Linked DNA regions of Homo sapiens. The protein of the gene in region 4 interacts with the protein of the main gene of each other region in a pairwise test. Each region holds a gene or a part of one and is shown on either strand. Other genes may lie near its edges. The genes, in order: FOSB, LATS2, OIP5, GLIS2, ZRANB1, RBPMS and CRX.

Region 1 (2,342 bases), on a different chromosome or scaffold from region 4:
CCCCTCCCCACCCATCCCCAGAGCTTGGGTTGACGTCAGAGAGCCAACAGTCAGCTGGGGGTGTCCATCCCCTTCCCACCCCCTGTCCCCAAAGTCACCAGCTCTCCGGCCTCGCCGGGGCACAGAAACAAGAGGCAGGACAAAACACAAGGAATCCTCCTGTCCGATGGCAGTGGCGCAGTGGCCGCAGAGGGTCAGACGGAGGAGCCAGGGAGGCCACACACCCACTTTGTCTCTTCCCCTCTCTCTCCTCCTTCTCCTCCTCCTCCTCCTCTTCCAAGTCTCTCTCCCCCATGTGTTTGTTTGTTTTGTGTGTCTAAAGAGTTCACAGAGCGAGGAGGGAGGGCGAGTTCAGGGGATCGGAAGGCTGGTCACTGCCGCTGGTGCGTTGGGCGCCGGCGAACGCGGAGACCTCCGGGCAGGTGAGGACAAACGAAGAAGTGTACGAAGGGTTAACAACGGGGAAGGGGTCGCCGAGGACTTGAACTTCACTGTGTGTAAAGAGAGAAGCCGTCAGGTTGGGGGGTGCGTCTTGGCTGGTCTGGAAGGGCAGGGGCGGTGGTGGCGGGGGCGGCAGCAGCCAGCTGAAGCCATCTTCCTTAGCCGGTGCTGAGCCCGGCAAATCTCTCACCTCCGCCAGCGGGCCCGGCCCGGGCCCCTCTTCGTAGGGGATCTTGCAGCCCGGTTTGTGGGCCACCAGCACAAACTCCAGACGTTCCTTCTCCTTTTGGAGCTCGGCGATCTCCGACTCCAGCTCTGCTTTTTCTTCCTCCAACTGATCTGTCTCCTGAGGCCAGGGAGGCCAGGTCACAGAAGAGAGAGAGGAAGGAGAAAAAAGCATGTCAGTGACCGGGAAACTCGGGTCATGGCTCCCTTGGACTTGCTGCTGGAAGGCAGCCCCGGGCTGAGAAAAAACACCTCCTGAGATGGAGTCCTGGTGGCCATGGGAGTTGGGGCAAGGGTCTTGCCTTCCAGGAACCTCAGTTTCCCCCATCTGTCCAAAGGATGGTACAGAAGGGGCCAGGTTTATGGGGAAGTTTCTGGTGTGCAGGAGGTTTGTTGAATGAATGAACAATCGTTATGTGGTTGGTTTTGTTTTGCTTTTGAGCCAGAGTCTCGCTCTGTCCCCCAGGCTGGAGTGCAATAGTGCAATCATGGCTCACTGCAGCCTGGACCTCCTCGGCTCAAGCGATCCTCCCACTAAAGCCTCCATAGTAGCTGGGACCACAGTGGTGTGCACCACCATGCCCAACTAATTTTTTTTTTTCTTGGTAGAGACAAGTCCTCCCTATGTTTCCCAGGCTGGTCTCAAACTCCTGGGCTCAAGCAATCCTCCTGCCTTGGCCTCTCAAAGTGCTGGGATCACAGGCATGAGCCACTGTTATGTGTTTTTAATGTGTTCCCTTCTATTACCCCTCCCTCTCTACCTCCCGGGGAAGAGAAAAAGTAGAGAAGGAAAGTTGACAATTCCCTTGTTCCCTCAAGGAGTAACAGCTCACCCTGCAGGCATACAGCAGGGAACTCTCAGACCAAGGGAGGACGTAGGAAGGGAGTGGGTTTTGGGGGATGCCACCAGCACCAGGAGAGCTGTGGGTGGCTAGGGCAGGAGGTGGAATAATTTCATTTCACAGGCTTTCCAGAGTGTTAAGGGTAGAAAGAGCCCGGGAGATTTGATGAGGGTTTGCAGAGATGGAGAAACTGAGGCAAAATGGGTTGTTACTTGCTGAAGACCAGATGGGAGAAATGATGGGGGCGCCCCTCTCCTCAAGGGCCCCATGTGGCCCCTTGGGATGAAATGAAGGCTAGGAGAGTAGTCCGTGGGGTCAGGAAATGGGGGGGGGACCAGGAGTTGACTTAAGTCCATGGGGGTCTGTGTTTGTGCCCTGGGCTACCCAGTCTGGCCACAGCAGTACCTAGTTCCATGTGTGGAACGTCTAGTTCTCAACCCAGGATAAGGGTACAGGTGGAGAGGGGGCAGAGAATGGGGAGAGAGCTCCCCTCAACATCCCCTCTCCCACCCCAGGGCCTGTCCTCACCGCCTGGAGTCGGTCGGTCAGCTCCCTCCGCCGGTTCCTGCATTTAGCTGCTGCTAGTTTATTTCGTTCCCGGCGCACCCTTCGCTTCTCCTCTTCCTCTGGGGTGAGCTGAGTCAGGGAGATAGAGGCCATGAGATTTGGGGATACAGCACTCCTCCACCCATCCCGAACCTCTACTTCTTTCAGAACCCCCAAGAGCCAAAAAACAAGCCTCCGGTCCTCGCTCGTGTAGCAAGGATCTTGGGGTTTCTGTAACACTGAGGCCTTAGTGGAGCCCCCCTCCATTCATAAGAAACTTCCTGCCTC
Region 2 (3,500 bases), on a different chromosome or scaffold from region 4:
GGCCGGAAGGCCACGTGCGCGCGCGGCGGCGCCTCCAGGCCCGGCTTCTGCAGGGAGTCCCGGCGGGCCAGGGTGGCAGCCGGCCACTGCTGGACGGAGGTGCTGCCCAATTCATACAGGTCCACGTTGAGGCTGTTCCGCGAGGGAGTGAGCAGGCTCTGCGGGGGGCTGTCGCTGGCGAACACCTGGCTGCGGGAGCCCAGCACATGCAGCTGGTGGGCCGCGGGACCGGCCTGCTTGTGGTGTGGGTGCGGCACGTAGAGCCCGGCGGCAGGGGGTGGGAAAGCGAGGCCGGCGCCTGGCGGTCCTCCCTGGCCCTTCGTGGGCAGGCTGGCGTAACCCCCGGTCTCCGGCGGCGTCTTGCTCTGGAAGGAGGGGCTGCGCTGCACTCCGTAGCCCAGGGGTTCCCCAGGCACCAGCAGGTGCGGCCGCCCGTAGTGCGCGCCCTGCAGCGGGAAGTGTGCCCCTGCTGCCTCTACGCTGGCACCGTAGCCCTTGGGTGGGTGCTGGTGCTGGTGGCCGGGCCCGTGGGGGCCGACTCCGGGGAAAAGGTAGTCCACGTACGGCCGCGGCATCTCCTCCAGCGCCGTGGGGCCGTCAGCGCCGAAGCTTGGGCCCTCGTAGGGGGTACCGCTCAGCTGGTGGTAGGACGCAAACGAATCGCCGGTTCCTTCGAAGCTGGGCCTCCGCGTCACTGGGGTTGGCATGAGCCCCTTTCCTGCAGTGGAAAAAACAGGAAGACAGCATCAGAGTGGGTGTGATCAGTGGGTTCTGGCACTTCCAGGCTGGTCCCCACTCTAGCGCTGCCCTCGGGGCTGAGGGTCTTGAACCCTGGGCCCTGACGTGCTGCATTCTGCCCAGCACAGGGTCAGTGGACTCCCCTCTGCCCTGCCAGCAGGACCAGTTGCCCTAATGTGTTAGCAGAGTGGAGACAAGCTGAAGGGCACATGGGAGGGCCAAGGGCAGAAGAGAAGACTGCGTCCACATCCCGAGGTGCGTCCCTGCCCCCTGGGGACCACACTGGGGTCACTCTCCTGTCAGGCTAGGGAGCCGTCTGCATAGCCAGCTTTGCTTTTTCAAAACCCTATCATGCCCAAATTGTGGGGGGCTGAGTTTACCGACACACGGTTCCCAAAGCGCTGCTCCCTCACAGAAAGGGCAGAACTGTATCCACTGTGCAGCAGCTGCTCCACTTCTCTTTCACCTCTTTTCCAAATTAAAAGACTTTCTAGTTTTTTTTGTCTATATTAAAACAAAGCAATATATACACAATAATAAAAACCACACAAAACCCCTCTACAAATATCCAGATTGATTTCATCTGCTGCTACCTTAATCCTGACCTCCATTTTGTACATCTCATCTGAAACAGACACCGGAAGGAAGGACAAAGGTTCCTTTCATTTCTTCAGGCCAACTGCTCCACTTGGCTCGGCTTAGCAGAGGGTGCCGAAGGGTGGAAAGGCTGGGCCTTGCCCACAGGAAGACCACCCCGATACCTGGCAGAGTGAAGGCCCTGACAGCCTGGCACTGAACAAAGGTCACAGGCACACCAAGGCTTTGTTTTCCCTGGGCCCAGAAGACGTCAGTGAAGAGACACACCAAAGGCAAGTGCAGAGGGAAATCAGCACGGAACATGGGCCTGGCCTTCCCTTTGAGCTGTGCTCTAAGGCCTCAAAACTGGAAGAATTCTGACATGGATGGCCAGCTGGGGGCTATTTAAGGAAGTTCCTTCTCTTAAGAAGAAAACAAAAATGTGTGTCCTTTTAACAATGGAGATATAACTTACAAAGGTGAGATTTTTCTCACCCACATGAAGTAGGTTTTATCCAAGGTCTTCCACAAAATAGGGAAAACTCTTGCTAATTACTAGGATTTTTTTTTTTTTTTTTTTTTTTTTTAAATACAGACGAGGTCTCCCTCTGTTGCCCAGGCTGGTCTCCAACTCCTGCCTCCATCCTCTGGCCTCAGCCTCCCAAAGAGTTGGGATTACACAAAACAAAACAAAGCAAAACAAAACCAGGCCACACAGTGTTGGGTTACAGGCTTGAGCCACTGCGCCTGGCCATGAATCCTTTATCACACCCCAGGGGCCTCAGGTACCAATCACAGGGCCCATGTGCTCCATCTTGGGAAAGTAACATTCATCCATAGCCAGTAAAAAGCAGGGGTTTGGTGCGGTGCCTCAGGCCCATCACAGGGGATGCTGAGGGGGGCCCAGCGCTCTGCCCACACTGCCTGCCATTGAACCCCCACTCTCAGAAGCTACGATGTGAGAGAGGTGTGTTTTAGAATTGAGGAAAGAAGCCACCCTTGTCAAAGATCCCTCCACAGGCCCAAGAGAAAGTGAAAAGACCATTTTTACGCCCGCTTTGCTGACTTTTTTGATCTTTCATAAAACAAGCACACACCTTCCCCTAGGTAGGAAGTACTAAGGTAATTTCAGACAAGGCTGGATGGGGCAAGCGCCAGGCGTGTCCCACGGTCTACCACTTGGGGCTGCTCCCGCCAGGGCCTGACTCTGTCAGGGCAGGGCAGGCTCAGCTTGCCTGTTAACTGAATGAGGCAATGTGCCAGGAGACTGGCTCTGGCCAGGCCAGGCCAGGTTGGACCCCTCTGCACGTGGTTTTGTTGTCCTTAAGCCACAAACCATCTTTGCCCACTATGCTGCAGGCCTGGGCTCACCTGGGGAGGTCTGCTTAATGACCCGCACAATCTGCTCATTCCTCGGGTCCAGGTAGCCCATCTTGCTGATGTACTCCAGGGCGGCCTCGATGCTCCTGCTGCCAGTCTGCTTGAGAGCTCGGCCAGCCATCTCCTGGGAGGGAAGTAAAGGAGAGGTAAGTGCATGTCATCCTAAAACAAAGCCACCAAAGACTCCCATCCCCACTCCGTGCTGGACTGTGCTGGGACACTTCGCCTCTGTACTGCTGAGAACCTGCGATATGCTGCAGGAGACCCTCAGAATGAGTGCAGGTGGCTGTGTGCCCTGCAGGTACCTGATGGCAAAAGCCTAGCACAAGCCACACCATAGACTATTTAGCCTTATGTCAAGGACATATGGGAATTTTGATGATGGGCCTGAAAGAGACTTAAATTCTGCTTCTCCTCAGAAAACTTTTGTGGTTGGACTGGTGAGTTCAGGATGAACCTAAAACTAGAAACATTTAAGGGGAAGAACTGTGGGAGTCAGGGAACCTGGCTTTAACCTCAGCTCACCTCCAGGCTAACTCTGGGACTAGGAAACCTGTCCCCAGGGAGAGGGTGCAGCTGCCGAAGAGTCATATATTACACGCCTACTGTTTACAATGCCCCATGCTGGCTATAGCAGCGGAGGACTGGCCCTTAGAGATCTGACTCGTAGAAGAAAGAAAGGAGACAAAACAGGGGCCCATGGAGCCACACCGGTCCAGGACAGGTAGCTCAAACTGCTTGTGGGAAGAACACAGGGACTGGTGGCCACCACGGGAGAGGGCAGGTAAAATGGATGAGGGCCACAG
Region 3 (3,409 bases), on a different chromosome or scaffold from region 4:
CAGATTTTCACTCTTGTTGCTCAGGCTAGAGTGCAATGGCATGATCTTGCCTCACAACAACCTCTATCTCGCAGGTTCAAGTGCTTCTCCTGTCTCAACCTCCCAAGTAGCTGGGATTACAGGCATGTGCCACCACGCCCGGCTAATTTTGTATTTTTAGTAGAGACAGGGTTTCTCCATGTTGGTCAGGCTGGTCTCGAACTACTGATCTCGGGTTATCCATCCGCCTCAGCCTCCCAAAGTGCTGGGATTACAGGCGTGAGCCACCACGCCCAGGCAAGAATTATTTTTTTTTGAGACGCAGTCTCGCTCTGTTGCCCAGGCTGGAGTGCAGTGGCGCAGTCTCGGCTCACTGCAACCTCCACCACCTGGGTTCAAGCGATTCTCCTGCCTCAGTCTCCTAAGTAGCTGGGATTACAGGCGCCCACCACCATGACCGGCTAAATTTTTTTTTTTTTTTTTTTTGAGACAGAGTCTTGCTCTGTTGCCCAGGCTGGAATGCAGTGGCGCAATCTCAGCTCACTGCAACCTCCACCTCCCAGTTCAAGCAATTCTCCTGCCTCTGCCTCCCGAGTAGCTGGGACTACAGGCACGTGCCACCACGCCCGGCTAATTTTTTGTATTTGTAATAGAGATGGGGTTTCACTGTGTTAGCCAGGATGGTCTCCATCTCCTGACCTCATGTTCTGCTCGCCTTGGCCTACCAAAGTGCTGGGATTACAGGCGTGAGCCACCACGCCCGGCCAGGAATTCTTAATAACTGTTTCATCACTCTTATGTCTGAGACAGTTGAGCAATTACAAGGTATTTGCAAAGAAGACACCTCTATGGCAAGATGATGATATCCATTCCCAGCACAAAGGAGAATGCAGGAGTGCAGCAGTTGAGCAGCTTTTCCTTTCTTCCTGAACTATACCTTACAGTGTGGTTTTAGTATTTTGTTTTTCATTACAAATTCAATAGGGAAGGTCAAATCAAGTAAAAAGGATTATTGAGCATCATGCCATTTCATCATCCCCAAGTTCATTGGTAGAAGTTATCAAGAGTTGTCTGTATTTTAAAAAAGCATACAACCATCATGAAATTTTACCTCTGCAATCTTTTCTGATAGAGGAACATTTTGAATATCCATCTCTGATGCATTTACTATGGCTTTTGTTTTTAAGAGATAGCTAGATAGGAAAAAAGAAAAATATTAGTGTCATACCATGGTTAAGATTATAAAAGAACCAAACTTACCTTCTAAAGAAAGTATGTGTCAAAAAAAGCCTGGCTTCTTAATGATTTTCATTTCAAGACTCATGATGTTACAGTTGGCCCACCATATCCATGGGTATAGCATCCATGGATTCAAACAACCACAGACTAAAAATATTCAGGAAAAAAAAACTGGATTGTGTCTGTACTGAACAGGTACACTCTTTTTCTTGTCATCATTCCCTTAACATTACAACAACTTTGTAAATTTCCTATGTAAATTTGTAATGTACATAGCATTTACATTACGTTAGCTGTCATAAGTAATCTGGAGATTATTTTAAAGTATAAAATATATACTTTTATACTTTAAAAAGGAGGATATCCAAAAGTAATATGCAAATATTACACCACTTAATATCAGAAACTTGAGTGTCCATGGATTTTGGTATCTGGTGAGGTCCTGGAACCACAGATACTGAAGGATGACTGCATTTTCTTGGAAAAACAAATTCAAAAATAAACAAATTGGAGAGGATCTCTGCCGCATCCCACCAGAGACAAAATTATCTCAGGGTAAATTAAAGACAAAAACCAGGCTCATATGAATAATTACGATGATTATAAGCTTTACACTTCATCAGTAGGATCCTGTAGCACAGTTTGAAAGAAAGTAATCCCAGTATGAGACATAGTGTTGGTCACCTATTCCCAGTAGCTGTTCCTCACTTTTTTTTTTTGAGATGGAGTCTCGCTCTGTTGCCCAGACTAGAGTGCAGTGGTACAATCTCAGCTCACTGCAACCTCTGCCTCCTGGGTTCAAGCGATTCTCCTGCCGCAGCCTCCCGAGTAGCTGGGATTACAGGCTTGCGCCACCACGCCCAGCTAATTTTTGTATTTTTAGTAGAGATGGGGTTTCACCATGTTGGCGAGGCTGGTCTCGAACTCCTGACCTCAGGTGATCCCCCTGCCTGGGCCTCCCAAAGTGCTGGGATTATAGGCGTGAGCCGAGCCCAGCCTTCCTCACTTCTTTATTGCCAACAGAATCCAGATTTTTGCCATGAGCCTACTGTTACATATTTGCTTTCTCAGATGAGGTGATCATGTGACATAGTTCTGGCCAACAAGGGTAAGAAAATGGGATGGGTGTGCTGGCTCACACCTATAATCCCAGCACTTTGGGAGGCTGAGGCAGGCAGATGGCTTGACATCAGAAATTTGAGACCAGCCTGGGCAACATAGCGAAACTCCATCTCTTTTTTTTTTTTTTGAGACAGAGTCTTACTCTGTCACCCAGGCTGAAGTGCAATGGCGAGATCTCGGCTCACTGCAACCTCCGCCTTCCAGGTTCAAGCAATTCTTCTGCCTCAGCCTCCCAAGCAGTTGGGATTACAGGTGCCCACCATCATGCCCAGCTAATTTTTGTATTTTTAGCAGAGACAGGGTTTCACCATATTGGACAGGCTGGTCTTGAATTCCTGACCTCAAGTGATCCGCCTGCCTCAGCCTCCCAAAGTGCTGGGATTACAGCTGTGAGCCAACATGCCTGGCCAGCGAAACCCCATCTCTACAAAAAATACAAAAATTAGCCAGATGTGGTGGCATGCCTGTAGTCCCAGCTACTTGGGAGGCTGAGTTGGGAGGATCACCTGAACCCAAAAGGTTGAGGCTGCAGTGAACCATGATCGCTCCAGCCTGTGTGACAGTGAGACCCTGTCTCAAAAAAAAAAAAAAAAAGAATAAAAAAAAGATTAAGAAAATTTATGCTGGCGGGGCGCAGTGGCTTATGCGTGTAATCCCAGCACTTTGGGAGGCCGAGGCGGGGGGATCACCTGAGGTCAGGAGTTTGAGACCAGCCTGGCAAACATGGTAAAACCCCATTTCTAATAAAAATACAAAAATTAGCAGGCTGTGGTGGAGCGCACCTGTGGTCCCATCTGCTTGGGAGGCAAGGCAGGAGAATCACTTGAACCTGGGAGGCGGAGGTTGCAATGAGCTGAGATCACACCACTGTGTTCCAACTTGGGTGACAGAGCAAGACTCTGTCTCAAAAAAAAAAAAAAAATTTATGCTGATGAAAAGGGGGAATTTTCTTGTGTTCCCATACTCTCCATATCCTTTTCCTTCATGTTTAGGATGCTATCATCAATAGATGTAATGACTGTAATTGCAGCAGCCATCCCGAATCCAAGAGGAAAAGGCCAAAGTTTCT
Region 4 (3,500 bases):
AAGAGCCTTGGGGAGGTGGGAGCCCTGCGGGTCGGCGCCCGGTCAGCATGCCTGCTGCACACAGTCCATCACCCTGATGACCCCGCGAATGGATGCCATTTTCCCCATTTTCCATGTGGGGAAACCTGCCACTGTCACAGCCAGCAAGGGGCACAGCTGGGTTCGCCAGCAGACCCCAAAGCCCAGTGCCACAGAGGACCAGAGGCTATGGCCCGGCTGATCTGCAGTGACCCTACCAGTCATGGAGTAGACGAGGAGGCAGGAGAGAAAGAGGCCCCTCAGAGAGGCTGGGACAGAACCTAGAGGGCACTGGGGAGCCACAGAGGGCTCTACACAGAAGAGTGCCACCTGCTCTCTCAGCCCAGAGCCTCCTGCCCCAGGCCCTCTCCTTTGGCACCCCCCTTCCTCAGGATCCCCTGCCCCCTGGGAACCTGATGCTCCCAGGTGCCAGCTCCTCCCTCACCACCATCCATGCCCCCCTGTTCTCTTTCCTCCAGCCACCATCCCCTTCTGCCCCCTCCTCCACCAAGTGCTCCCTGGTTCACCCTCCCCAGCCTCGGTTTCTGGAGCTGCACACAGGCTGTGGGTCCAGGTACCTGAGGGCCTGCTGGGCAAAGACTTGCCTCTGTCCACCCCCGCTGGAGGCAGGCTGTCCCGGGTCCAAGTCCTTGCCAATGCATCACTGAAGCCAGTGTCACCTGTGCACAGCGTGGTGTACACAGCGCCGACCTTCAGCCCCAGGCCTCCCACTGGCCCTGGTATCCAGAGCCTCCTTCCAAGAAGGGAGCCTGGGAGTGGGCCGGGACATGTCTGGGACGCCGGGCAGCTCCAAACCCGCTGTGGCTACTGAAGAGAAGGCCTCACCAGCAGACCCCTGCCCCAGTTCCCACGGCCCCTGGCACGGAGCCCACCCCATCCACCAGAGTGAACTGGGCAGTGAGGCAGGGAACCCAGAATGAGAAAACTAGGCCTGGGTTTCCCCATCCACAGGAGGGGGCCTGCTGAGAGGACAGCCGAAGCTCCAACAACCCCAACCACTCATCTTAGGTGGCACAGTGGTACCTGCCCTTCACATATCCCAACACCTGGCACTCCGCGAATGAGTCCGTCTCATTCATGTATTCATTCACTCGACAGACATTCCCGCCTTTACCCCCAAGTGAGGAGGGGAGGGGTAGGTATGGAGGGGTTCGTGCCCAAAGAGGAATGTGACTTGCCCAAGGTCAAGGCTAGAAGCAGGGGCTGGTCTCCTGACATAGATGCCTCTTTCTCCCTGTCCCAGGCAAGGGACCCAGGAACAGAGCTGGACAAGGGTGTGGTGGCCCCTAGGAACCACCCTGGCCAGCTGGGATGGTGGGAAGGGCCCAGATCCCCCCCAGCTCCATCTCCTGCCACGCCCTCCCAGCCCTGGCCCCCAGCCCCAGATAGCTGGGCAAGAGCAGGCCCAGCAGGGCACCGCACACACAGGACTCCAGCCCATGCCCTCCTCCTCAGCCACCCGCCCCTCTCTGCTCGCCTACTCTGGAAGAAAGCAAGTCCAGAAGCCGGGGACAGCCTCCAAAGCCATCGAGGTCCTTTTCCTTCCAAAGGGGAACACCCACTGGCAGGATCTGCCAGGCCTGGTGGCTCCAGGCCCTCGGGGCCCAGTGGCCCTAGAACCAAGCAGGGTGACCACTAGGTGCTCCGGGGGGTGCTGGGGGAGGCCGGGGCTGGCAGGGAGACGAGCACCAGCACAGGGTTGGGGGGACTTCAGAATAGGGAGGACAATGGAGGCCCCTACAGCCTTGCGGGGAGGGGACATCCCAGCTCAGAGTCGGTCTGCCTGGAAGTTGGGGTGGGGAATGGGGGCTCTGGATGAAGGTGGGAGTGGCCCAGGGGAGAACTGGCCCAGGCAGGCCGGGACTTGCTAGACAGCCCCAGGCAGACGATGCAGGGAAGGGGAGAGGCTTCTTCCAGACACGTTGGCCCCCGTCATGCCCTTGCAGTGGACGTGGGGGGCAGGAGTGGAGCTGGGGGGATTCCCAGGCTAAACCGACATTTCAGGGGTCAGGGCCAGACAGCCCCAGACTCCAGTTCCCCTCTGTTCTTCCCCGATTGGGAGTGACCTCGGGCCAAACCCTCAAATGTCTCAGAGCCTCAGTTTCCCCCCACCGGCCTCCGACGACCTCTTGACTACCAGGGTCCAAGCGAGGCTGCCCTGGGAGCGTGCTGTGCCAGCGGTGGGGACCCTCCATGTGACGGGCAGGACTGTTTTCCGGAGGCTCCCGGCCGGGGGCTGACTCAGTCCACTCAGCGGTCTCCTGGGGCCTCTGCTGGCTTCCCACCCGCCCTTGGCCATGACTGGAGGAAGGGGCCAGGGCTGGGTCTCCGTCCCTTCCCCGGCAGCCATCTGCCAAGGCTGGAGTCCGTGTGCACGCACATGTGACACTCACAGGCCGGCCCCTCCCTGCGGTGGGCACTACCTGGCCTCTCAAGCACCGAAGACAAAGGGCACGAGGAGCCCAAGTCACCCGCCCCCCAGCCATCGAACTGGAAGAGTCTCAGCCCCCACCCATCCCCCAGCAGGGGCTGCTGGGGCAGATGGGAAGCCCCCACCCCTCAGCTGGAATCACTTCCCATCTCCATGCCCCCCAGGCCCACTTAGCCTGGCCACCAGCTAACCAGAATCCTCCAGCCCATCTGGGGGAGTGGGGGAGTGGAAGGCGAGTACCCGGCCTCCGTGCCTGCCCAGCCTCACCCAGGGGCTAAGCCGGAGCCAGGAGAGAAACCTGGGTCTCCTCCAGGCTGTGCCCTGCAGACCCTGCCACCATCATCACCATGATCCCTCTCCAGTCCCTGGGATCAAAGCAGTGCCCCCACGCTGGCCCCCCAGCAGAGTACTAGAGGTGCTTGTTGGAAGCGCGGAGTCCCCGCCCCCAGCCACGCCTGACTTAGAATTCACCAGGGTGGGGCGGAGGCGGCCACCTCAGAAACCACTGAGAGGCAGATGTGGCCCGGGAGACTCGCTAGGGCTGTGGTCCCCACACCCAGGGCTGGCAGCAGGCTGGGGCAGGGCGCAAGTTCCCAGAGACGTGAACCCCCAGATACACATCAGGGCCTCAACCCATCTCTGTGGACCCTTTCATAGCCCCTGGGAAGGGAGGCAACTTAGGCAGAGGGTGGAGAGCATCTTTCAGCTGGTCCCACAGATCCCCTAGCCAGCAGGGAGAGGGTCTCTTACTGCTCAATACACAGCCCCGCCAAGCTGGGGATGCCCCCTACCCCTGAGAAGGGCATTTATCTGGGTGAGGGGAAGACCACCCAGGACCTTCCGGGGTTCCCCTGTGGTCTCAGTCACCTGCTGTGAAATAAAGTAACAATTATAGCCATGAGGAGAGGAAGGGATTCAGGGGACACTTTTCTCTGCAGCCACCCCCGCCCCAATTCCACCCAGCACAGGGCCTCTCCCATGGAATCAATTTCCTCCTTAGGTGCCAGAGACCCCTGGGCCTCCCCTTAGA
Region 5 (3,500 bases), on a different chromosome or scaffold from region 4:
CTTATTTTTTGTATTTAAAAACAGTATTCTGGGAAGGAGTCCATAAGTTTCATGAAACTACCAACATGGTCCATGACACAGAAACCGATGAAAATTCCTGCCCCACATACATATCCCCAACTCTAATGTTCTCCTGTTCTCATTCCAAAAGAACTTGGCTGAGCATTCTCTGCAACACACCCCCTTAGTCTAGACTTAGTCCAGACTCCCCCACTTCCAGTCTCCCTACTGGCCCCTTTAATTCTGTCCTTTGGAGTATTTACTCCATGGAGACTGAATCCATGACCAATTTTGCTCTTTGCCTGGAACAAATCCCCTCCACCTCTCCCACGCTGTTCCAGGGTTGTTCTACACGTCCCACGGAATACAGCAAAAGTAATGGTATGTTGCTTCCTAAATCAATTTATAAAAGACACTGCAGGTTTCAAAGACACTGGATCACTCTCTTGTACTCTGTGCCTCTCTTGGATCACTTGTTGGGGGTAAAACCAGCTGCTGTATCATGAGCATCCCTGTAGACAGGCCTGCATGGCACAGTATTGAAGCCTCCTGCCAAAAGCCACCTGAGTGGGCTTAGGAACAGATACTCTAGCCCCAGTTGAGTCTTTTGACAACTACAGCCCTGGACCACTTGACTGCAACCTCATGACATCATGAGCCAAAACTATTCAGCTAAGCAGCTCCTGGATTCTAACCCTCACAAACTCTGTGAGATAACATACATTTGTTGTCTTAGCTGCTAAGTTTCCAGACAATCTGTGATACTGCAATAAATATACTGATGTTCGATCATCATCCCACTGTTACTCCTCAGACTGTCTCAGGAGCTCAATGACTCACAATGGCCCCTCTAAAACCTTGTAATAATCTTCTACCTACCTTTAGGGGAGCCCCTTAAGACTTTCACCCTAGTTCACAACCACCTTCTTTATCCTGGCTCCTGTCACCACCAGCAACTACAACTCCACATTGACAGCCCTTCCAATATACAATAGACAACACAACTAGGCACCACAACACAAATGCAGCCAGGCCTTCGACACTAGAAAAACTCCAATTCTTCTATCTCATGTTCCAAAACCTGGATCCCTCTATCTGAAAAGTTCCCTTCTCCCTTATACTCAATAAGCCTGCCCTTTTGTTTTCATCATGGCCTTCAGTCTCTCAAGCCCCCCACCCCGGCTTCACTGGAATCTTACCAAACTGGACACAGGGGTTAGCTACTACAATCATGTTTCCATCTAACCTTCAAATTTTTTAATCCCCATACAGTGCCCTGCAGTGGTTCCCAAATATTGGCAAATTTGAATAAACAAATATGCAAAAGTATATATGAAAGATGTATACTGACAAAATTTGAATCCACAATTAATATGACTCTCTGCACTTTTACTCTATTTCTCTTACCATTAAAAAATGTTACCTTGGCCAGACACGGTGGCTCATGCCTATAATCCCAGCACTTTGGGGGGCCGAGGCGGGCAGATCACTTGAGGTCAGGAGTTCAAGACCAGCCTAGCCAACATGGTGAAACCCCACCTTTCTAAAAATACAAAATTAGCCAGGCATGGTGGCATGTGCCTACAATCCCAGTTACTTAGGAGGCTGACAAAGGAGACTCGCTTGAACCCAGGAGGCAGAGGCTGCAGTAAGCCAAGATCGTGCCACTATACTACAGCCTGGGCAACAGAGTGAGACTCCAGCTTAAAAAAAAAAAGAAAGAAAAAAAAAACCTGGATAATGTAGTCACATTCTGAATAATTCATACACAATCTCTATCATTGGTAGCATGTACCTAGTTATGTAAGCCAGAAACTGAAGAATCAACTTACATCCACACTGTATCTTCCCATATCCAATCAGTCTACTTCTTCAGACTGAGGGCCTGTCTCAGTCTCTCCAACCCTCTAACCCTCTTCCCATTTCTAAGGCTACCCTTCTGGGTACCCTTCTATGGCTACCCTTCTGCCCTTCTGGCAGAAGTTCTTGCCAGCACCTCTGCAACTCCCTCCTAACCAGGCTCACCCCTCTCCAGTGTGCAGCAGCCAAAACACAATCTGCTCTGCTCACTCCCCTGCGCCCATACCTAACACCATCCAGTGCCTAGGGATAATCTTCAAATTCCTTGACACAGAAGATCCTTCGTAATCCAGCCTCTGCTTATCTTTCAGACTTCCCTTCTCTCCATTCCCAATCACCATCTCAGCCATGCTTAGTTACCTGCAAGTCCCTAGATTCACCACAAATTCCACCATCTCTGCCCCCTGTAAAAATGCTTTCCTCAACTTCCCTTCTCTCCCTTATCCACTTCATGTGGCTAACTCCTAACTCTTTCTCTTCAAATTGCAGCAAAAACATTACCTGCTATAAGAAAGACGACAAGACACCTCAAAACTCTTCAAGTACTGGCATAACACTTGGCATTTACATCTACCAGGGCACAGGCTGCACAGAATTACCTGTTCATTTCTCTACTTTGCTGGAGATTTAATGAAGAAAGAGCCAGTATCTTTACAATTGTATCCCTTCTCAGCCTAGTGCATGGCACACAGTAAATGCACAATAAATATCTGTTAATTGAATGACTAAAGAATGACAGATACATCCCAGGTTTGTATGAACCAAACATGATGAGTCAAACATTGTTGTGACTATTCAAATATTTGAAAGCATATACCCTTAAAAATTAAGTCTCTTAAGTTTAATGTTATTTTTAAAAGGGGGTAAAAGAATTCAAAACATTTTAAAGCTGCTTAGAGAAACATTATAAAATCAAAAATGAAAACTAAAGAACAGGTTTCTTTAATATAAAAGAACATTTAACCAAAACGCCAAACTTACCTCTGTAAGCAATATTGCTAGCATATCCTGCCTCTGAAAACGTATAGCCAAGTGTACAAGAGTATAGCCAACATCAAAGGCAGAAGGACGATTCAGCAAGCGTACTTCATCTGCGGTGAGCTGACGTGCAATGTCTCCTCCTGATGACTTGTATGCTTCTATGGCAGCTAAATCACCTTCTACAACCCCTAAAACAAGCATCAAGATAGAAAAGCATTTAATTCTCATTTTCTTCAAAAAACACAAACCGTAGCAATCACTCCAAAATCTTTTAAGTGTTTCTCTGTGCTTCCTGGATCCTGATGCATCATTTAAATGTCCTATAAGAGTAAGGAAAATAAGTTTTTTCCTTTCCCTTTAAAAATTTTCCTTCCAGAACTAGAACTGCCTAGACATTTACCTTACCATCAGTGCAGGCTCCAGGCTCTGGTGAGATTTAGAGGAACTATTAGGCTGCATGAATTGGATCGAAGATCAATAATCTAGTATGAGAAACCAGACGTAACAAGAGACACTGAGCCCCTGGTTCCGGTCCTGCGTTCATCCTGACTCTGCAGAAACCAAGGAGACAGGGATGTGCTTCCAGCTGGTGTTGAGCTCCTCCTGCCCTTTACACTGCATTCTTAAAGCAGAATCAAAACAAATGCTGAGCTTTCCAT
Region 6 (3,500 bases), on a different chromosome or scaffold from region 4:
AGTAATTACACTTTTGTAGCACTTCCCCTCTGAGCACAAAGGAAATTCTGCTACTTCTGTAATTAGATAGCACTTTCTGTGTACACTTTCTCCCAGGGGGGGCCTCCACTGTCTATCCTATAGGTGGGCGTAAGAGGAATTTTCACAAAACAGGATCCTGCGGATTCAAGAAAAAAAAAAATTGGGTAGTCTTTAGGATTTCTCTTAGAACAACATTGGCCACTGCCAGCCTATCTACCCTGGTGACATGAGAATCTGGGAAAATCAAGAGGAACGTCACAAAAAAATCAACTCATGAGAAATAAAAGTTAATTAAAAGTAAAGTTGTCCTATAACTTATTTGCAGAGGTTGGTGAGCCAGACCTCATTTTGGAGATTCTCAGATGTCTCCTACCTTTGCAAAACCCTAAAGGCTGACAGAATGGAACTGGCTAAGCATTCCCTTTGCATTTTAAATTTGTGTAACAATACTGTATTACAACCTGGAATGTGAATCCATCTTCTCGGTGTGACTGGCATTTATCACTGCCATTTCCTTTTTCTCTTTAGCATTTACACAATATGCACCGTCACCATAATAGGTGCAGTAGAGTTAAAACCTAAGAGAAATACAAATGCAAGTTGTTTTCTTTTTAAGTTCCTGGACTACTTTGAGCTGACACTTAGCTGGGCTGAAAAAGGCAGCAAACTTTTAAAGTATAAATTGAATAAAATGAAAATATGGCCAGGCATGGTGGCTCATGCCTGTAATCCCAGCACTTTGGCAGGCCGAGGCGGGTGGATCACCTGAGGTCAAGAGTTTGAGACCAACCTGACCAATATGGTGAAACCCCTGTCTCTACTAAAAATACAAAAATTAGCCAGGTGTGGTGGCGTGTGCCTGTAGTCCCAGCTACTTGGGAGGCTGAGGCAGCAGAATTGCTTGAACCCAGGCAGTGGAGGTTGCAGTGAGATGGCGCCACTGCACTCCAGGCTGAGTGACAGCGCAAGACTCCGTCTCAAAGAAAAAAAAAAAAGAAAATGAAAATATAACCCACAGATTAGATGTCTTTGGGCTGCTGGCCAAAGGCTCATCCTACTCTTCCTTTTCCCCAAAAAAGTCAAAAAAGATAAAAGCAACTTAGAAATTTTTTCCTGTAAAAAAACTCACGCCTCTCCAGATTTTATGGTAGCTTGATCTTTCCTTTTAGGTGCAGGGTTGGCAAATGGAGAGTTGGAGAAGTAAAAGCCTGGGAATTAATGGCAAGTTTGGGAGGTTTATAAACAGGTTCCTGAGTTTTGAGCAAAGCAAAAAAAAAAGCATATGAGAAAGACCATATATCAGATTTTTCTAAGCTCCCCCTCAGGCTTTCCAATGGCTAAGTATACCAAACCCTTTAAAAACAGGCAGATTATATGTAATACATTTTTATGTTCCTAAATTAATTTTTAAGTTTCCATTTTTCTTGATTATTTTCAATTCTCTCCCCTTCCCAAACACTTTTTAACATGACTCTAAATTTTCACTAAATTTTGTATCTCTTTCCTTGCTAACCCTCACAACGTTTCCTAGAAAGCAGGAATTCCATTTTCTGGGCACTCACTCCCAGTATGCACGCTTTCAATTATCAGCTCTATGTTCTTGAATTGTTCTGAAAATCGTATTTCAAGATCAGACCTCTCCTCTGCACCCCAGACTCAGTAACATCTTCATCTCCTAGGTACCTTCTTTTCTTACCCTTTCCACATCTCTATTTTCTATTCCTACAAATACAACCGTCACTTAGCTAGCCACCCGAAGGAGAAACCCAAAAGGCTGCTAGGCTGTCTCCTTGCCTTCTCTCCCGCACATCTGACAGTTATCTAGGCCCTGAACACCTGGCATCTCTGCCTCAGTTGCCACTGCCAGGCTGCTGCCTCACTTTGAGACCAGGACTCTTGCAGCAGAAACCTCACTGCAAGAATGGTTCTCAACAACTTTTCCAAAATTCGCCACATCCCCCTGCCCATTGGGACGTCCTAGATTGCTGCCTTCTGGGGCACATCCACCCTGGTGCCCCATCAGAGGACAAAGTCCAATTCCCTAATGCAGAGGCAGCTCTTCCACCCACTGTGGGCCAGTGCCCCCTCCCCAGTTTCATTCTTCCTTCCCCTTCTTCTCTCCTGCCATGCCTTGCTTGCTCTTCCCCAAAAGGGTCTTTTGAAGCCTCTGTGTGTTCATTCACAGAGCGATTTCCTTGCCTAGCCCATCTTTTCCCCACTGTCTGAACCCTTTTCTCATCAGTCAAAATCTTAACTGAGATTTAGCTCATACGTCATCTTTAAAGAACTGACTCTTTAAACTTCTTTAAAGCTTTCTGTGACACAGCTCCATCCCTTCCTTGCAGGTTTGGCTGTGCTCAACTCAACTACCTCTACTTTAACCTCGGGCGTGGTTATACCTGTTTGTTCATACAGGGGCATCACCATTAAACTGTGAGCAACTTTAAGACAGGAACTGCCTCTCTCAGATCTTGGCATCTCTAGAATCTGCACATGAAGACCCTGGCTCCATAGCTTTTCAGGGCTTCAGCCACTTCCCCATCAAAGCAGCACAATCATCATAATCCCTTCATCAGCTTGGCACATAGTAAATACTCAATAAAAGTTAGGAGATAATTATTTAATGAATAGATAAAAAGATTTCTGACAATTCTGCAGGCTAAAGATTTCAGTATTTCCTTTTTCCTGCTATCAGCAACACTGACAAGCCAAGCAGCTTTCTTCTGATACCACAGACATATCCCCTTTACTCAGCTTCATGTTTCAGATAATATCAAGGACCTCCCACCTCCACCGCCAAACATAGAAAATATAGTGCAATAAAATTGTTTACAATATTCTCCTGGTACACTTTAGGGATGTGAGTGTGAGGAGTTATCCCCATATGACAAATAAGCTCATCCCCACCAGGGGCATGGAACTGACTTGTTCATACCAACATAGCATCCATTTTAAATACCTGGTCCCAGATGGCCTCAAGCCCACTGAGCTATGCAGCCACTTCTGCACCAGCTTTTAAGGTTCATTCTCCTCATTCCTTCCTAAGTTTTTTTCTTTGACCAAAGCAAGCACTGTTCAAGAGGAACATTTGCATTCCCTTTCCCCTACCCCCAGGCAGACACTAAGGTGCCAAATGAAACTGAACACAAACATTCCAAAGTGGCTGTCACACAGAGCAGGCTTGTTTGGGAACACAGGGAGTCCATGCTCTTCCACCTAACCAAGGCTTCTGGAAGCCCTCGTCCAAAAGGTCAAATGGAATTCCACAGCAGAAACCAAATTCTAATGGTGAAAACCCAAATGCACCTTGGGACAAGCAGTCCCACACTGACAGTGGCTATCTGATGGACCAGGCAGGCTCACCTGTGCTCGCAAATGGAGGTTCCTAATGACAAAGGGATGGAAGTAATTTTCCAGCAGTGGCTATTTGATGGACCAGGCAGGCTCACCTGTGCTCGCAAATGGAGGTTCCTAATGAC
Region 7 (4,060 bases), on a different chromosome or scaffold from region 4:
TTCCCAGCTGAGCAGTTGTTCCCACAGGTGAGGTCTGAATGCTCACAGCCACCTGGTGGGGCAGACATGCAGATAACTCCATTCTACAGCGGGGGAGACTGAGCCTGGGAGGGAGGGAGGTGCCCACAGTTCAGGTGGCTGATGACCTTAAGGACCTCCAGGGGGCCCCAGCTTCTCACACACTGCATGCACCATGGACCTTGGGAACAAGATCTCAGGCAACAGTAACTCCATGGAAACTTCCTCCCAGGCGGCTTCTGGTATCATCCCCACTTTACAGAGAAGGAAACTGAGGCTGAGAGAAGTGTAGTCTCCAGTTCTGTCTCGCACGTCAGCGGCAGAGCCAGAGCTGGGCCAGCACCTGCCCCGGAGCCGGTGCCCTCCTGATCACCCGGCGATATGGCCTCTTAGGATGCTCCCCACAGCCCCACGGAGCTCAGAGGTCCCTTTCTCAGAGGAGGAAACTGAGGCTGAAAGAGGTTTCGTCAATTCCCGAGGTCACACAGGTGATGAGTGGAAGAACCAGGGGTAAAATTTAAATCTCTTTGGCCCCCGAGCCCCGCTCTTCACCCCCAAGTCTACCTAGGGACCCTAGAAACAGAATGAGGCTGGTCTCCTGCCCTGCTCCCACTGCAGGCCAGGCCTGCAATATGGCTCATCTGGCTGGATCATGGTGACAGCTTATCATTGTCCCCACTTTGCAGAGGAGGCAACCAAGGCCCAGAGAGCCCACATGAGGGGTCCAAGGCCACACAGTGAGAAAAGAACAAGATTTAAACGCAGACTCGGCCGGGTGTGGTGGCTCACGCCTGTAATCCCAGCACTTTGGGAGGCCGAGGCAGGTGGATCACCTGAGGTCAGGAGTTTGAGACCAGCCTGGCTAACAAGGTGAAACCCCATCTCTACTAAAAATACAAAAATAAGCCAGGCATGGTGGTGCACGCCTGTAATCCCAGATACTTGAGAGGCTGAGGCAGGAGAATCGCTTGAACCTGGGAGGTGGAGGTTGCACTGAGCTGAGGTCATGCCACTGCACTCCAGCCTGGGCCACAGAGTGAGACTCCGTCTCAAAAAAAAAAAAAAAAAACCAGACTCATGTGGCTTCATGCCAGCCCTTGGCAAGACCCTCCCAGCTCAGCCACATTCAGGGCCCTCCCTTGTCAGCCACTCCAGCCTCTCTCTGCAGCCTCTGTTGGCTCCTCTGTCCAGCGGGGACAAGGAGCTGGGTGGATGCACCCACTGCCGGCCATGAGACCTGGGGGAAGCTGGGATCCACGGCACAGTTAGAGCCTGAGCAAATCAACTCCGTGATCAACAATGTGATCCCTGAAGCATCCAGAAATTCACACACAGTGGGCAGCCCTGAAGTCGGACCTCACTCTGTGGCAATCACAGCCCTCGCTCGTTCCTTTTGGGAAAACCGCATCACACCTCCTCTCTGTGGCAGTCTGTCTACCTGCTTCTACCCTTCTGCCCTTCATTCATTCATTCATTCCCTGCATATTCACTGAGCACTCACTGTGTGTCTAGGACTGACCCAAGCACTGGGAATACAGCCGAGAGCAAGACAGACAAGGCCTCAGCCCTCCTGACAGGGGCAGACGGGAAACAAGGTGTCAATCAAGAGTTTTGCAGGAGACCGGCTGGGCGCAGAGGCTCATACCCATAATCCCAGCACTTTGGGAGGCTCAGGCGGGCTGATCACTTGAGGTCAGGAGTTCGAGACCAGCCTGGACAACATGGAGAGACCCCCCATCTCTACTAAAAATACAAAAAATAGCTGGGCATGGGGGCACGCGCCTGTAATTCCAGCTACTCAAGAGGCTGAGGTGGATGGACTCCTTGGACCTAGGAGGTAGAGGTTGCAGTGAGTGGAGATCGTGGCACTGCACTCCAGCTTGGGCAACAGAGCAAGACTCCATCTCAAAAACAAACAAAAAAAAACTTTGCAGAAAGAAGATCAGAGAGAGTGACTGTGCTGGAAGCTAAGAGGGCGGGGGCGTGAGGATTCCCCAGTCCCGAAGTAGAGCCTGGGCTGAAAGCCAGAGCCTCTGGGTGCATTGAGGCCCTAAGTGATCAATTCACCAGCACAGTGATCCCCAGTCATCACATTCCTGGCTCTCTCGGGCAGGCCCAAGTCCACCCGGAGTTCTTCCTGTTGCAGCCACAGACCTGGGCTCTCTGCGTATATGTCTGTTCCGTCCCTTGTCTGTCATTCATCCATCCATCTATGCAACACATATTTAGGCAAATCCCAACCACACGCTGGGCACTGGGGAAAAATCAGTGCTCAACAAGGGAGGGAGACAGGCCATTTGTGGATCATCGCGCAAATGAAAATTTCAGGCAGTGCTAAGAGTTTTAAAGAACATCCAACAGAGCGGTATGCTGAGGAGTTGCCTTAGAACCACGGTGAGAAGCCCCCAACCCCGGATGCCGTCAGGGCTTGAGGGGACCCCCTTGCCCACAAGCCACCCTGAATCCTCCCAATGCCCCGAGTGCCATCAGCCAGTCCCTGCTGTCTAACCTTACTCCCTCCTGCTGCAATCACAGCCTAGCCCCGTTTCCACAAATGCCAGGACGGCACCTCTGTTTTGTGTGTGACTATTCAGCAAACATCACCTGCAGAGCACGGCAAACACAGCCACGAATAAGATAAACCCAACTTCTCCCCTCTCTTTTTTCTCCCCTCCTCGGTCCCCTCCGCCTCTCCTGCAGACGCTCACCTTCAGAAAGGAGGGACGGGGCTCTCCCGTGGCCCAGGACCTAGACAGAGCGGCCAGACAGCAGAGGCTGAAGGAAACACATCCCCTCACATGGGGAGATTTTAAGCCTGGGCCGGGAGTGATGTCATTTGTCATGGCCTGGAACTCGGAGGGTAATCCCGGCCAAGGTGGGGGACTCGACTGGGCACCAGGAGGTGACATTGGCTGGGAGGGGGAGGGGCACCCGTCTGCTTAATCCCCTCCTCTTCCCCCCATGACATCTTGGCAATTAGGGCTGATGGGGAAGGGAGGCCCCAGCTCCTGCCGGTGACCATAAGCCCCTACTCCTCAGGGAAGTCCTTCCTTAGGTCTAACTGGTGTCTCTCCAGCTTCAGCTAGTATCCCAAGAGAGAGGCATCAAAGAGGAAGGAGAGCACTGTCAGATGGTCCTGAGAGATCGTCTGAAAAAAGAGAGGCACGGAGCTTTCGGGATCCCTCTCCTGGGTCCCCCTTTCTCTCCACAACAGTCTGTCCGACAGCTAGTTTATCTCTGTAGTGCCTCATTGGTCTCGGTTTCTGCCTCAGTTTCCCCTGTTTCTCTCTCTTTGACTTGGTCAAGTCTTGTCTGTGGCCTCTCTGTCTCTGTGTTGTCAGACATGATATTCTCCTCTTTTTGGGGGCGGAGGTGGCAGGGGCTGCTTCCAGCACTGAAAATAGGCAGACTTATTAGAAAGGGTGTTTTGTTTTTCTGTTTTTGGTGGAGTTTGGGGTTTGGGATTTTTTTCTTTTTTTTTTCCTTTTTTTTTTTTTTGGTTGAGACAGGGTCTCACTCTGTCGCCCAGGCTGGAGTGCAGTGGCATGATCACAGCTCACTGCAGCCTTGACCTCCTGTGCTCAAGGGATCCTCCCTCCTCAGCCTCCCCAGTAGCTGAGACTTTACAGGCACATACCACGATGCCCAGCTAATTTTTTTATTTTCGTAGAGATGGAGTCGCTCTATGTTGCCCAGGCTGGCTTCAAACTCCTGGCCTCAAGCAATCCTCCCACCTCGGCCTCCCAAAGTGCTGGGATTGCAGGCGTGAGCCAACAAACCCAGCACTCACCATCTCTCTACACACCATTGGTCTTTGTCTGGCTTCTCTGTACCTCAGTTTCTTTTCCTGTGGGCCTTAGGCTGTGGCATTTCTGCCTACTTTCCTGAATACCACTCTTTCATTCTCCATCTGCTCCTCTCCGTCCCTGTCTCTGTTGATAAACCTGCATTATCCCCTTGGTCTCTCTTATTCTTTTTCTCTGTGTCTCCCTGTCTATCTTGCTCTTTCTCCCCTCTCCCTCAGCCTCCATGTCCTTCTGTT

Evidence for each region.
Region 1: the proteins of GLIS2 (region 4) and FOSB interact in binary tests that used the Homo sapiens proteins (3 or more experiments, as listed by UniProt).
Region 2: the proteins of GLIS2 (region 4) and LATS2 come close enough for resonance energy transfer, tested with the Homo sapiens proteins (one large-scale study listed by BioGRID).
Region 3: the proteins of GLIS2 (region 4) and OIP5 interact in binary tests that used the Homo sapiens proteins (3 or more experiments, as listed by UniProt).
Region 5: the proteins of GLIS2 (region 4) and ZRANB1 interact in binary tests that used the Homo sapiens proteins (3 or more experiments, as listed by UniProt).
Region 6: the proteins of GLIS2 (region 4) and RBPMS interact in binary tests that used the Homo sapiens proteins (3 or more experiments, as listed by UniProt).
Region 7: the proteins of GLIS2 (region 4) and CRX interact in binary tests that used the Homo sapiens proteins (3 or more experiments, as listed by UniProt).

The regions. Positions count from the first base shown.
Region 1 is NC_000019.10:45,470,996-45,473,337, reverse strand, and holds part of FOSB (protein FosB), read right to left. Parts: intron 2,145-2,342; coding exon 2,037-2,144; intron 788-2,036; coding exon 326-787; 3' UTR 1-325. UniProt on the Homo sapiens protein: Heterodimerizes with proteins of the JUN family to form an AP-1 transcription factor complex, thereby enhancing their DNA binding activity to gene promoters containing an AP-1 consensus sequence 5'-TGA[GC]TCA-3' and enhancing their transcriptional activity.
Region 2 is NC_000013.11:20,988,587-20,992,086, forward strand, and holds part of LATS2 (serine/threonine-protein kinase LATS2), read right to left. Parts: intron 2,819-3,500; coding exon 2,686-2,818; intron 719-2,685; coding exon 1-718. UniProt on the Homo sapiens protein: Negative regulator of YAP1 in the Hippo signaling pathway that plays a pivotal role in organ size control and tumor suppression by restricting proliferation and promoting apoptosis.
Region 3 is NC_000015.10:41,312,183-41,315,591, forward strand, and holds part of OIP5 (protein Mis18-beta), read right to left. Parts: intron 1,173-3,409; coding exon 1,091-1,172; exon of another isoform or gene 1-1,090. UniProt on the Homo sapiens protein: Required for recruitment of CENPA to centromeres and normal chromosome segregation during mitosis.
Region 4 is NC_000016.10:4,319,067-4,322,566, reverse strand, and holds part of GLIS2 (zinc finger protein GLIS2), read right to left. Parts: intron 1-3,500. UniProt on the Homo sapiens protein: Can act either as a transcriptional repressor or as a transcriptional activator, depending on the cell context. Acts as a repressor of the Hedgehog signaling pathway. Represses the Hedgehog-dependent expression of Wnt4.
Region 5 is NC_000010.11:124,966,123-124,969,622, reverse strand, and holds part of ZRANB1 (ubiquitin thioesterase ZRANB1), read right to left. Parts: intron 3,030-3,500; coding exon 2,842-3,029; intron 1-2,841. UniProt on the Homo sapiens protein: Ubiquitin thioesterase, which specifically hydrolyzes 'Lys-29'-linked and 'Lys-33'-linked diubiquitin. Also cleaves 'Lys-63'-linked chains, but with 40-fold less efficiency compared to 'Lys-29'-linked ones.
Region 6 is NC_000008.11:30,391,041-30,394,540, reverse strand, and holds part of RBPMS (RNA-binding protein with multiple splicing), read right to left. Parts: intron 1-3,500.
Region 7 is NC_000019.10:47,820,677-47,824,736, reverse strand, and holds the start of CRX (cone-rod homeobox protein), read right to left. Parts: upstream 2,801-4,060; 5' UTR 2,727-2,800; intron 1-2,726. UniProt on the Homo sapiens protein: Transcription factor that binds and transactivates the sequence 5'-TAATC[CA]-3' which is found upstream of several photoreceptor-specific genes, including the opsin genes.